Linked DNA regions of Homo sapiens. The protein of the gene in region 1 interacts with the protein of each later gene in a pairwise test. Each region holds a gene or a part of one and is shown in the gene's direction. Other genes may lie near its edges.

Region 1 (7,470 bases):
TGAAGGTCTGCTACTACCCCACTCTAAGTCATAATGCATTTTTAAAGAAATGCTGTCTACACTGGGTGATGATGTAGGATCTGGTTGTTTTCATTATTAATTTTCAATCTTACCTGACTGTGTTTGCTTGCCTACGTATAATTTAATGTTTTAAACGGAGTAGACAGTTTGGGAGGGGATCAGCACCAAAAATTTTGGAACTTAATCAGAAGTGGTGAGTGTACCTGCAAAACAGGATGGTTGTTTGCTATCTCTTTGAAGTCAGTCACCTTTGTCTCTAGTTCTTTATTGGCATGAGCTACAATTTGGGAGTGGGGCAGGATTTTTGCCATCAACCGTCTTATTCTACAGACAGCTTCAGAATAGTTGTTCCAGTTTTCCAAACATAGTATCATAGCCTAGTGCATGTTGGGCACATGCAAATCAATATTTTCCCTCTCCGTGGCCATCATAATGGCCTTCAAATCCAAAGTCAAAGCTTTGGAAAGAGAAAACTTATACGTCCTTCTAAAAACAAAGGGAAAGGAAGAACTGCATTCTCTTGAAAGTTAAATTATAACCTTTTCTTTCTGATTCTATGAAGAAGACTGTACTAATAAAACTGCCAATTTCTTTCAGGTGGGTGTACATGGCATTAGAATAGAATTCATCAATGAAAAAGGATCAAAACGCACCGCCACCTACCTACCGGAGGTTGCAAAGGAGCAAGGTCATTGTTGTACTTTATTTCATATGATCTGGTGAAGAATTTAAACAAATATACAAACTGAAATGCGTTATCTGACCTTGCAGTTATGTCTAATAATTGAAGTGTCAAATTATAAGAAGTGACTCTTCCATCACTGCCACTGCAATGTCTGTATCAAGTCGGTGAAGTACTCACAGAAGTTGAATCCCTGCATTGAAGTTTGATGGCATAAACCCATAAGTGTATATTTTTTAAAAAGCAGAATTTATATTAGTTGGTTTTCATTTTAGGCAACAATTTGCTACCGATTTGAAATGCATTTTTCCCATATTCCATTGTGGCATAAACAAGCCTTTTGTTTGACAATCAGCCACATAGTTCTTTGTCATTTTAAGTATCAAATGTTTCATTCTTAGGTGGTTGCCATTACTCATCCTGCTGATACTAAGATTCTAGGTTTCCCACTAAGATCAGAGGATTGCGAAAACATGAAGTGTTAGTGTTTTATATGCTTGGTCTACACTTCCTAATCAGAATTTTCCTGTTTCACACATAGAGCATAGACCTGTATGAACCAACATTGTAACACAAAGTAACTTTTCACTCTGTAGTATTTTATCCTTTCTTAGCAACTACTAAATTCTGGTTTCATGTTGGTCGAAATGAATCTTTTATCTTGGGGAGCTTTTCTTCTCATCAGAAAGCATTTGTAATTTGGTTTTCCCGTGTTTGTCTTATAAATGTGAGATACATAATAGCAAAATTAATGCCATTAAATCCCCAGATCAGAAAGTCTTCAAGGCAGTTACTTGAAGATTTATTTGGGTTGCTTTAGAAAATGTCTTAATCTCCTAGTATCATTAACTTTGTAAAGCATACATAAAAGATAGAGGGCCTCAGATACTAGTATACCATCCATGTCAGAACTAATCAAAATACCCTTGAATACTGCACACAAACTTGAATGATTACAGAATTACAGAAGATACCATAAGGAACAACAATTACTGTGAGGTGGTGTGGGAGTCCTAAATATTGACTTGGCAAAATGGCATATAGGCTTTTCACTCCCTTTTAAAGATGTCACTGTTAGAGGAAAGTACAACAGATATGGTTTGTTACAGTCATGACTGAGCAATTTCTGCCAGCCCCTTAGACCCCTTGACTTCGAATGCGAAGATAAAGGAGCCAGTGTTGTTTGGCATTGTGGATAGCTAGAATTTAAGGAGTGTGGTGATGACCCTGCTTTTGTAAAGGATGAAATCTTAGCTTTTCTGTGTGATTGTTTTTAGGACCAAAAGATTTGATGGCATTTGGTGACAGTGATAGCTGACCTCTACAAAGTCATTTTGTATTTAATGAAAGGTGTTTGTTACATGTGCTTGACTGATATTTTATCTGGTCATCTCTCTACAGGATGGGACCATATACAGACCATAGACTCCTTATTGAGGAAAGGAGGATACAAAGCTCCGATTACTAATGAATTCAGGAAAACCATAAAACTGACCAGGTACAGAAGACATTTTCTAGCACAAGGCTAACCTGTACATTTTGATGTGTATGCCTATAACCCTTTGATTTCTTTGGTCTCTCTAACTACACTTCTTTTTTCTGAAACAGAGTGGAAATGAATGGCAGGGTCATACTGAGGGTGGATACAATGGAACTCTGCTTCGTAGTAAAGCCTGTGTGATGTATGAGCCTATCTTTCCCATCTTTAGCTCTGTGTGATTACTCTGGCTTTTGTACGAGCAAGCCCTTGGAGATTTTAGACTACTTTATTGGAGAAAGTACTTGAATTAGCAATTGGCTAGCTTTTGACATTACTGAGCAGAACCCCAGGATTCTGATAAACAGTCCTCAAATTCGAATTTAATCTCAGAATTTTGGCAGTGATAGAAGTCTACCAAGAAAACTTGTTAGCTTGCTGAAAAACACAATTGAGCTAAACTCAAATGCTAAATAAATTTCAGCATGAAAAAATAGGGATGCTTATTTAAAAAGGAAAATACCGTACATTTTAGGAAAATGGGCTGCTGGTTCCATTTATTTCAATTCCATAAAACTACATTGAATGCTTATAGTCTAAAAATGGCCTATTCTCAGCTCTGAGGAGTTACAAATTCAGAAATACCTCCATCTCTGCTCTCCCTGAGTTCACAGTGGAGGAGAATAGAAGGGGCATGGACAAAATTATTAATCTAAGGCAGAATATGATGGATAATATGAGATCCATTCCCATAAAGTAGGGAAAGAGGAATTCTAAGAGGGTGGGAGGGGGATAACAGATAGTTTCAAAGAGGTCAGCTGGGGGCTGGGTTTGAAGAATGGATAGAATATTTGACAGGTAAAAAGGGATTTTTTTTTGACAGGAGGAAAGTGATTCCCTTAAGGAAGACCTTGTGAGTCAAGGGTGGTGAAGTACAAAGCAAGTTCTGAGAATATGAAATAGTCTGATTGGGCTGGTCTTTTAGTGTAATAGAGAAGCTGATCATTAGAGGAAAATATGGCCCAGAAGGTAGGTTGGGCAGACCATTGAGGGTCCTGAGTTCCAGAGTAATTAGTTTGGACCTGGTTCTATAGGCAATTGGTAGCTATTGAAGGATTTTAATCAGATGGGCTTGGGGAGGTATAAGAATGGAATTGGAAACAGGAAAATGAGCCAGGAAGCGTTGGTATTATCTAAGAATCTGTGGCAGCAGTCCAAAAGAGGTGCAACAGGGGCCTTAACTAGAGCTGTGGCAGTGAGATGGGAAGAAAGGTTGGGATCGATATGAAAATAATGTGGAAGAAATGAAAGGACTGGGTCATCATTTAGAAATAAAGAAGAAAGTCAAGGCGTTAATCTAGATAAAAGGGACCAAGGTAATCCCTTTAATCAAAGTAGGGACCACAAGAGGAGTGTGTTAAGTTTATGCATCGATTTTGGATTTGAGGTGCTTCTTAGGATATCTATATAGAAATATCTAGTAGGTCAATGAAAATGTATGAGCTCATGGCTAGATATGATTGAAATTGTAAGGATAGGGTTCACTGTGGGGGGACAGTATAGAGTCAAAATAACTGAATACAGAAACATAACAAAATTCTACAAGGCAGGGATAGGAGCATTCAGAGACAAGGAGCAATCTGAGAGGCAGGGGAGAACCAGGGGCATGTGGAGGTATAGAATCCTTAGCACCAGAGAGCTTAAGGGCATGATGGGCAAATGGAAAGATCAAGCTGAGTCAGGGGAAGCCTTCTGATGGCTATTTCCATGGAAGGGTGGCAGCAGAAGCCAAGGAGCACTGAGCTGAGTAGTAGTGTGAGATGGGGATTGAAGGCAGAAAATACACACAACTATTTGAGAAATGTGGCAATGAAAAGAAAGCCAGACATGGGGAAAAGTGAGAGTTCAGGATACCAGAATTAAGAAAAGTTGTTTTTGTTGTTGTTACTTAATGGTAAGACCTAAGTAGATGTGTGGACAGAGAAAGGAACAGTAAAAGAGGGAGAGGTGGAAGATTTCTGAAGAAAAATAATCAACTGAATCGAATGAGATGCATACTCCTGTTAGAAAACTGGGGCTGAGGGGACAATAAAATTTTTAAAAGAACAATTTAAACAAGGAGTAGTAGAGTGCAAAGAGCACTGGACTCAGACTTTTGATTTCCAAGTTCTGATCTTAGCTTTGCTACTTACTATCTCTGTGACCTTGGGCAGTCACTGCTTCTCTCTGGGACCCCGTTTCCTGATCTATAAAATTATCTTTAAGGTCCTTCCTAGCAGTGACAATGGCATGTCACCTACTTCTCAATGTTAACTTTTCTCTTCCCTGACTTTCTTTCAGGTATCGTAGTGAAAAGATGACCCTGAGCTATGCTGAATACCTTGCTCATCGCCAGCATCATCATTTCCAAAATGGCATTGGGCATCCCCTTCCGCCATACAACCATTATTCCTGACACTGAGCCGCACAACCAGTCACTGGGCCTCTCTGCAGACCTCTTCCCAGGAGACCCTACACCTTCTTGGTCTAGCTATCTCTTTTACTGTACCATTTTATGATGATAGTTTCCGTTGCCATGGTGAAGCTTCGACATCGTCAACTAAGATCATCATGGTAACGGGTAGAAAAATGGCATTTGTTAAGATCCTGTTTTATTATTTTAGATCGTTGATTTTTTTTTTGCAGCATATATAATTTTGGGTTTTTTTTTCCTTATAATATTATGTAGAATTTTGCTTTGCTGTCTCAGTCAGGTTTCTGTTTTTCTGTCCTCCTTGCCTTTCTTCCCGTTTTGCTTCCTGTTTTCCTTCTTCCTTCCCGTTTTCCTTCTTCCTTCCCTGCCTCCCTTCCTTTGACTGTGGATGGAAGAAAGTGTGCAGTTTTTAGGGATTTTACTTAGGTTCGTCTTTAGTTTTCCTCAGTAAGATAGTTGTTTTTTGATACCTGAGTTTGGGATTAATTCATATCAAATTCAGGTATTTGTATATTACTCTTGATTTTTGTCTGAAATTCACTTTGCTATGACAGCCTAGTAGTTGGGTCTTCACTCCTTAAGTATATGTTTTTCCCATGGTGAAAATACATGAACTTTAGTTCTAGTAGTGAGCATTCAAAGGTCCGTGATAGGGCTTGTCACAGAGAGAGAGAAATCATTTATCCCTATTGTGCTGGTTATCATAGAAGAGACTGCCTCACCACTTTATAGAACCAATTTGCAAACTAAAACACTGTTTGGAGAAGGTACAAACTACCTTTCAAAAAGGCTACAGGAAACATTTTATGAGCAGCAAATATTAGGAAGAGAGCAGATACAGAATTTAGTGCCTTTGAGAAGAATATAATTAAGTGGAATTAAGAGGGGTTAGAAAAAAGGCAATTTAGAAAAATATTCTTGTAAAACTTTATTGTTTCTATATGTGAAACAGAAGATTAGACAAATTCCTTACTCTTAAGTATTTTTTTAAGCTGAAAAAAAATTATTTTGAGCAAATAACCAATAAGAGACATTTGTCTATTTTATATTAATTTAAATTTGTTAGCTCTAGGTTTCAATAAGTCATGATTGGCTAGAATCCATTTTAGCTACCATCTAAAGATATGGTAAAGATAATTTAGTAAAACAAAAGTTCATATTTGCCATGATTTCAGATATGTTTGTCATGGGGACAATATTAGAGTTTTAGAGATACTATAAAATAGCTTGAATTTCTTTCTGCACTACATACTTTTGATAGAAACACATTTACTACATTGATAAGATGTTATGTCACACCTGTGAAAATGGAGTTGGCATTCAGATATGCTATAGTTAGAGCCCAGCTCATCTGCAAGTATAGTCTTCCCATGATGCATACAAAGATAACTTACTGATGTCGATAGGAGGTCCATACATATATCCCCAGGAAAAATGACAGATTATTCTGGAGGAAGATGACCTTCATTTTATGGTTATGTGTGTGTGTCTGTGTGTCTTTGGAAAAATATATATAATTTTTTCAAATAGGAAGCCAACATATCAAGTGATGAATTAAAGTATGCTGCAGAATATATATTCTAAAACTACAAAAAAGTCACTGAATATCAAAATGATACAGCTTATACATATAGTTACTGTGACAAGTGACAGACTGCTAGTTCAGAATTCAAAAATCCTTTCCTAGTTTGTGAGATAATGGGCTAAATTCCTTCTGCCTGCCACTGGGGCAAAGCAAATTGCTTTAGTTTTTGATGAGAGTTCTTAGAAGTTTGTTGGTATTCCTTCATCCACAGCATCCATTGTTGAAATAACCATTTTCAGTTGTGATGCCTTAACTAAGAAGCCAATTGTTAGCCTGAAATGCAATCTTGGTAGCCAGTTTCAATGAAGCTAGAGATTAGTCAGAAAAAGTTAGCTGTTGGGCTTTAGAAAGGGATTTTGAGTCCTGTCATTTCTACTTGGGAGCATTTTGGAGCAGATTAGTCTTTCAGTATAAAAACAAGTGGCTACCTGATGGAAACTTTTCTTACCCTTATAGGGAAACTGAGCACAAGCTGAATGATATTGTCTGCTGCAAAAAAAAACAAACAAAAAAAAAACAAAACAAAAAACAAAAAAAAGGAAAAAAAGGTAAATAAAACAAGCAAACTGAAGAGAGACAAAATAGACCAATATTATCGTGAAATCCATCTTATCCATCATCTCATCGGTTCAACAGGCTCCTCGTCCTGGGTGAGCTTATGGTTAGAAGTTTTTTTAGCAAAGATTTATTACATACATAGATGTGTGTGTGTACATATACTTACACATACATACATACATATATGTGTGTTTATTTAACGGTGCTAATCAATCTTGAGCAGGTCACGTGACTGGTCATGCGGACTCTAAAATCATATCAGATTTTTTAAAATCCTTGATATATGCAGATGTTATACAGATTTTCTTAGCAGTGTAATAACGTTAAACTGAAGAAATAACCATCCTGCAGGCTTCAAAGGACGAGGTCAGCAATATTTCCCAACATGGCTTGGGGGAAAAGGATAGTTTTGTCTCCTTTTGTATTCAAGTAATGCAAAGTGCATTTTTGTCTCTAAGTAGCTTTTGACTAAAAGACTTTGTAGTGTAAAGGGTGTTATACAAACTGTAATGGTGTGCTTCAAACAAATGCTAGACCCTTTCACCTTTGTCGTATATACAAAGCTGTTAATTATGTGGTATGAATTAACTTTGAACATGTTGAAATATGTAGCATGTCTTTAACTCAGACGAAGATTCTGATTGCACAGGTTGTGTTCTAGCCAGTTGTGATTT
Region 2 (7,470 bases), on another chromosome or scaffold:
TGTAGATTTTTCTCTATCTCTTTACTTTGAATGTGTGGGCGTCATTGCATGTGAGATGGGTCTCTTGAAGACAGCATACGATTGGTTTTGTTTCTCTATCCAGCTTGTCATTTTGCCTTTTAATTGGGGCATTTAGCCCATTTACATTCAAGGTTACTATTCATATGTGTAGATTTGATCTTGTTATTGTGTCGTTAGCTAGTTATTATGCAGACTTGTTTGTATGCTTGCTTTATAGTGTCACTGGTCTATGTACTTACGTGTGTTTTTGTGGTGGCTGTTAATGATCTTTCCATATTTAGCACTACCTTTAGGAACTCTTATAAGGCAGATCTAGTGGGAACAAATTCTCTTAGTAGTTGCTTGTCTGAAAATGATTATGAAGCTTCTTTTGGCTGGATGGGAAATTCATGGTTGGAATTTCTTTTCCTTAAGAATGCTGAATATAAACTCTGATAATGCACAATAAATTTTCTGGACATTAGAGAAAAATTACTGGACTGTAGATTGTGGTAAAGTTCAAATTACTGGAAATAGCAATGGAGTATATCCACTGCCTTGGCCTTCATTTCTGCGTATTTATTTGGTGTGGTAATCACCACTTGAGATTCTCTAATTTTTGTTCTTCTAAAGAATGTGGACTATTATTTACTATTATTATTATAGTAATATGCCATATTATTTGGCTGTTTTATTACCAAGAAAATGGATCTCTTTCCATAAATGGTCTTTTTTCTTGTTATGTATCTTTTGCTTTTTTTTCCCATTTTTTAATCATGTTTTCATTCATTTTTACTGTGCACACTAATTTCTTTTATATTGCATGTATTGCAGATTTTTATTTTACTGTTTTTTGTCTTTTAATTCTCCTAATTTTAATATATTTGAATTTGTCAGTCTCTATTGTTTGCTCCTTTTCTCCTATTCATATGTCAAAAAAAACCTTGTCTGTGACTTCTGCAAGTGGTCTATTTATACTTTTTACTTTTGAATATATGACAAATTGATTATTGTCCAACTAATAGAGGTCAATGCAATTCATTTTTTTCCCAATTAAATACCGGTTAGCTTTGTTCCATGTTTAAAGTGCTTGATACTTCCTTCACTATCCTACAATGCCTCCTCTGTTATTAGTCAGCTTTCCATATCAATTCCAGCTAATTAAAGACTATATGCCTTTCTCTTGGCCTAGTTCTTTATCTCTCTGCTTATACTACACTGCCCTGAATATTATATTTGAAAATCATTGATGTGTATTAGGCAAACCATCACACTGTTATTCAGAAGACTTTGACGGTTGTTAGGCGTTTGTTATTTCTGTAGGTTTTGAAAAGTAGTTTCTGCTGAACTGCTAGAAAGTCTGTTTCAGGCATCTATGAAATTTTACATAAATATCATTTGTAAGAGGTGACATCTAGATGACATTGAGTTTTTTTCTTTGAACGCATGCCTTTTCACTTATTCTATTCTGCTTTGACATTTTTCAGTAGAAATTGTAAAATAATTATTTTTGGATTATTGAATATTGATTATTAGTGTTAATTACCTCTTGATTAAATTTGGGCTTGAGTGAAGCACTTATAAGCTTCTACACATTTTCTCTTTGTGTAACCACGTGGATTGGGCTCAATTTCCCAATTAAAAAGTTGTGACATCATATATGAAATATTATCTACCAGGGAAGCTCATCAGATACTCAGTGCTCAGAGTGTGTTTTTGTTTGTTTATTGAGGCTGATCCCCCTAGGCACCACTGCTACAATAAAACAAAATAATAGACTTTTGGAAGGAAAACAGGGGTTCAGCAAATACCAGATTGTTTAGATAAACTATTTAGCAACAGTGAGCTACTTTTATCACTTAGGTTGTTGGGATGCCTCTTAAAATGTAAGTTCCCTCATACCAGCAAAGGTTGAACTTTGTAGCAGGTATTTCTAAGGGTAAGTAGTCTTGTGACGGCTCATATTAACTCTCTTATGCACACCAGATAGTAAGACTTTGATATGATATGTACTGCAGGTATATGCTATAAAGAAAAATCATAACAGCAAATATTACTCCCTGGACCCACCAACAAGAAGGGTGTTCCTTCTCTGCTGCTGCCTTGCTGAACAGTTCAACTTTAGCATAAGAACTGCTGGCTGAGCGCGGTGGCTCACGCCTGTTATCCCAGCACTTTGGGAGGCCAAGACAGGCAGATCACGAGGTCAAGAGATCGAGGCCATCCTGGCCAACATGGTGAAATCCTGTCTCTACTAAAAATACAAAAATTAGCTGGGCGTGGTGACATGTGCCTGTAGTCCCAGCTACTTGAGAGGCAGAGGCAGGAGAATCACTTGAGCCTGCGAGGCGAAGATTGCAGTGAGCTGAGACGGTGCCACTGCACTCCAGCCTGGCAACAGAGTGAGACTCCGTCTCAAAAAAAAAAAAAAAAAAAAAAAAAGAACTGCTATGTGGGAGAAAGGAAGTGTAGACAGAGTCATAGTTCTAGTGACCAAATAGTAGAATAAATGTTCGCCACAGAATCAGATGAACATCTTATAAATTGACTACAGATTTCCAGTGCTTTCAGTCTCATCCATCCTCTACAAAAATGTGGAATATTTTAGAACTCGGTTGCCTTTGAGGATGTGGCTGTGAACTTCACCCAGGAGGAGTGGGCTTTGTTGGATCCTTCCCAGAAGAATCTCTATAGAGACGTGATGCAGGAAACCTTCAGGAATCTGGCTTCCATAGGTAAGAATCACAATATTTCTTCACTTAGTCAATCAGAAAGTAAGTGTTTCATGGTTTTCAATGTCATTCCATGATTTGGAATGTACAAAGGGAACACTTTGATGAGTGAATGAGGCATGGACCCAGTGTGCAATGACTCTTGTTTCTTAGTCTATTTTTTAATTGTGATAACAGAATACCTGATCCTGGGTAATTTACAAAAATAGTTTTATATTGGTTTATGATTCTAGTGGCTAGAAAGTCCAAGGTTGCATCTGGTAAGGACCTGATGCTACTTCAGCTCAGGGCATGAAGCAGAAGCAAGTGGGCATGTGCAAAGGGATCACAGCAAGAAAATAAGAGCAATTCTTGGGAGCTAAACTTGCTTTTATAACAACCTGCCCTCTGGCAACTAATTCAGTCTTGCAAGAGTAAGAGAAAACATGCATTCCCAAGCAAGGACATTAATCTATTAATAAGGAATCTGTACCCATAACACAAACAATGTTGCCATATTGATGACCAAATTACAGCATTCATTTTGGTGGGTACAAACCATATCCCCAACATAGCACCTAGAGTCTAGTAATTTTTCTATAATTTCAAATAATTTGTAATATATTTCTGGGTCTACATTTTAGGAAACAAAGGGGAAGACCAGAGCATTGAAGATCAGTACAAAAATTCTTCAAGAAATCTAAGGTAATTTGCCCTCACAAGAGGAAGCAGTCCCCCTTGGGGTCAATTGTAGTATATAATCATATGTTTAAAGCAAACAAGGCCAGGCATGGTGGCTCACACCTGTAATCCCAGCACTTTGGGATGCTGAGGTGGGCGGATCACCTGAGGTCAGGAGTTTGAGACCAGCCTGACCAACACGGCAAAAACCCGTCTCTACTAAAAATACAAAATTAGCCCAGTGTGATGGTGCATGCCTGTAATCCCTGCTGTTTGGGAGGCTGAGGCAGGAGAATTGCTTGAACCTGGGAGGCGGAGGTTGCAATGAGCTGAGGTTGTGCCATTGCACTCCAGCCAGGGAAACAAGAGCAAAACACCATCTCGGGGAAAAAAAAAAACCAAGCAAACAAAATAAATTAAGACAACATCAATTTATTCTCAAAGTTTTTACCAAAAATATATACTTCAATGTAACATGGATGTTAAATGTTTGCAAAATAGTTCACTTGAAAACAGTATTGTTTTAGTCTGCTTGCATTGCTATAAAGGAATACCTAGGCTGAGTAATTTATAAGGAAGAGTTTTATTTGGCTAATGGTTCTGCAGGCTTTATCAGAAGCATAAAGCCAGCATCTGCTTCTGATGAGGACCTCAGAGAGCTTCCAGTCATGGCAGAAGGGGAAGGGGAGCTGACATGTCACATGGGGAGAGAAGGAGCAAGAGAGAGAGAAAGGAAGTGCCAAAGTTTTTGGGGTTTTTTTGTTTTGTTTTGTTTTGTTTGAGATGGAGTCTCTCTCTGGTATCCAGACTGGAGTGCAGTGGTGCAGTCTTGGCTCACTGCAACCTCCGCCTCCCGGGTTCAAGTGATTCTCCGGACTCAGTCTCCCAAGTAGCTGGGATTACAGGAACATGCCACCACACCCAGCTAATTTTTGTATTTTTAGTAGAGACAGCATTTCACCATGTTGGCCAGGCTGGTCTTGAATTCCTGACCTCAAGTGATCTGCCCACCTTGGCCTCCCAAAGTGCTGGGATTACAGGCGTGAGCCACCATGCCCGACCATTTTTTTTTTTTTTTTAACAATCGGATCTTTCAGGAACTAATAGAGCGAGAAGTCACTCATTACCACAACAGTGCCACTTATGTGGAATCTGCTCCCATGACCCAAGCACCTCACACCAGGTCATACCTCCAACATGAGGATCAAATTTCAGCATGAAATTTGAAGGGAGAAAATACCCAAACTGTATTCAATACTAAGAAACTGCATATGAGAATATTACTGTATTGTTAATAGCTATAGGGGAGGGAGCCATGTTGTAGACTAATCAATCCATTTATGTTCAATTTGTTTATGTTAGAAAACCTGCACTTTCTCTGATATTGGTAGCAGTGTAAGTTCAGACTTAGTAATAAAAGAAAATAACTAATAAACCATTAATGATGGGGTTGTCATTTTTTGCAGAAGTCATATGATAGACATACTGTGTAAAATTAAATAAGTCAGTGTAGAAAAACCTCCAGATGCCAAATTTTAATCTGAACAAAAAAATTCCTGCTAGAGTAAAACCACATGAATGCATTGTGTGTGAAAAATTCTTCATACGTCATTCATCCCTTCATAGGCACATCATATCTCATTCTGGAAACAACCCATATGGGTGTGAGGAATGCGGAAAGAAGCCATGTACATGTAAACAATGTCAGAAAACTTCCCTTTCTGTCACAAGGGTTCACAGAGACACAGTAATGCACACTGGAAATGGACATTATGGTTGTACAATATGTGAGAAAGTTTTTAATATTCCCAGTTCATTTCAGATACATCAGAGAAATCACACTGGAGAGAAACCCTATGAATGTATGGAATGTGGGAAAGCCTTAGGTTTTTCCCGTTCTCTTAATAGACATAAAAGGATTCACACTGGAGAAAAACGCTATGAATGTAAGCAATGTGGGAAAGCCTTCAGTCGTTCCAGTCACCTTCGTGACCATGAAAGAACTCATACTGGAGAGAAACCCTATGAATGTAAGCACTGTGGGAAAGCCTTCCGTTACTCCAATTGCCTTCATTACCATGAAAGAACTCACACTGGAGAGAAACCTTATGTGTGCATGGAATGTGGCAAAGCTTTCAGTTGTCTCAGTTCCTTGCAAGGACATATAAAGGCTCATGCTGGTGAAGAACCCTATCCATGTAAGCAATGTGGGAAAGCCTTCAGATACGCCAGTTCCCTTCAGAAACACGAGAAAACTCATATTGCACAGAAACCCTATGTATGTAACAATTGTGGTAAAGGCTTCAGATGTTCCAGTTCCCTTCGTGACCATGAAAGGACTCATACTGGAGAGAAACCCTATGAATGTCAGAAATGTGGCAAAGCCTTTAGTCGTGCTAGTACCCTTTGGAAGCATAAAAAAACTCATACTGGAGAAAAGCCCTATAAATGTAAAAAAATGTAAAGGCTTTAATCACTACAGTTTTTGTCAAAAACATGAACAGTCACATACTTGAGAGAAACTGTGAATGTAAGGTGTAGGAAAGTACTTAATTTTCCCAGATTTCCTCAAATACATGAAACGAATCAAACTGGAGATAAACCCTATGACTATAAGCAATAAGGTAAAGCATTCAATTTTTCCATTTCTTTTTGAAAACTTGAAAGGACTCACTGAAGAAAATCCATATGAATGTTTAAAATGTGGTAAGGCCTGCAGTTGTTCCAGTGGTATTTGATGGTATAACATAACTCATTCTAGAGAAAAACTTTATGAAGGTATCGAATGTGAGAATGCCTTCATTTATCCTATAACTCACTCAGAGACACATGGTAACACATACTCCAGATTGACCTTATAAATAAAAGAATGCCCACCAGATTGAAATCCTAGAAATACAGAAAATTCTGAATTTTAACAATTACTTTAAAGGTCATGTGAAAACTCCCACTGGAAATAAATCCTGTAAATGTAAATATTATGGAAAACCTTATGGAAAATAATTATAGTACAATTCTCAAGAAAATTCACTATGTGAATGAGATGTTTTAGGAGCTATAAATAAATTGAATATATTGGTTGCTCATTTTTGAAGAGAGTCTCTAGAATATAGATTTTCACTTCTTTTGAAAAAAAAAAAATTGAGGTGAGACTTTTTTTTTTTTTTTTGAGATGGAGTCTCACTTTGTCGCCCAGGCTGGTGTGCAGTGGCACAATCTCAGTTCACTGTAAGCTCTGCCTCCCAGGTTCACGCCATTCTCCTGCCTCAGCCTCCTGAGTAGCTGGGACTACAGGTGCCTGCCACCATGCCCAGCTAATTTTTTGTATTTTTAGTAGAGATGGGGTTTCACCGTGTTAGCCAGGATGGTCTCAATCTCCTGACCTCGTGATCCGCCCGCTTCAGCCTCCCAAAGTGCTGGGATTACAGGCGTGAGCCACCACGCCCAGCTGAGGCAAGACTTCTGTAAGTATTCTTCAAGCAGTAGTACAAGAGTTAAATATGTATTCTTCTTTTTTAAGCTGGTAAATAAATTTCCTTTTTCTACCCATTTTAAAGTGTGTTGGTTATATGGGTAAATTGAAATGTATTTCTTTTCCTTTTTTCTTGCATAGCCATTTTAAAAAATATTTTTTAAATATTTAAAGTATAAAATATTTTTAAAATTTTTTAAAAATTTTGTGGGTTACACAGTAGATGTGTGAAATGTATTTGTAGGTTTAACTTCTGTGTAGTTTAATTATTTTGTTATTAATTGGCCATTGATAAATGAGTCTATTTTCTTTGCTAATAGAGTTGCTGTCAATTTGTAAGTATGTAAAGTTTATTATAGAGTATATTCTCACGTGAATTATTATTTTCATCTGTTGTTCTTTACATTGTCATTATTTTTGGCTATTTGCATAGGTAACATTGGTTTAAGGAGAGAGACCTGTGATCGAACAGTGTCTTGTGTCTAATCTGAGAAAGAAAGCATCCAGTCTTATCATCATGTATGATGTTAGCTGAGGGTTTTTAAAATAAATTCCTTAAAGCAGGTTGAGAAAGTTTCCTGCTGTTCATTATTATTGAATATTTCA

The links. The genes of interacting proteins can lie anywhere in the genome.
Region 2: the proteins of AMMECR1 (region 1) and ZNF124 interact in binary tests that used the Homo sapiens proteins (3 or more experiments, as listed by UniProt).

What each region holds. Positions count from the first base shown.
Region 1 is NC_000023.11:110,195,685-110,203,154, reverse strand, and holds part of AMMECR1 (nuclear protein AMMECR1), read left to right. Parts: intron 1-618; coding exon 619-709; intron 710-2,104; coding exon 2,105-2,201; intron 2,202-4,520; coding exon 4,521-4,635; 3' UTR 4,636-7,470.
Region 2 is NC_000001.11:247,154,952-247,162,421, reverse strand, and holds the end of ZNF124 (zinc finger protein 124), read left to right. Parts: intron 1-2,608; coding exon 2,609-2,735; intron 2,736-3,355; coding exon 3,356-3,416; intron 3,417-5,018; coding exon 5,019-5,856; 3' UTR 5,857-7,433; downstream 7,434-7,470. UniProt on the Homo sapiens protein: May be involved in transcriptional regulation.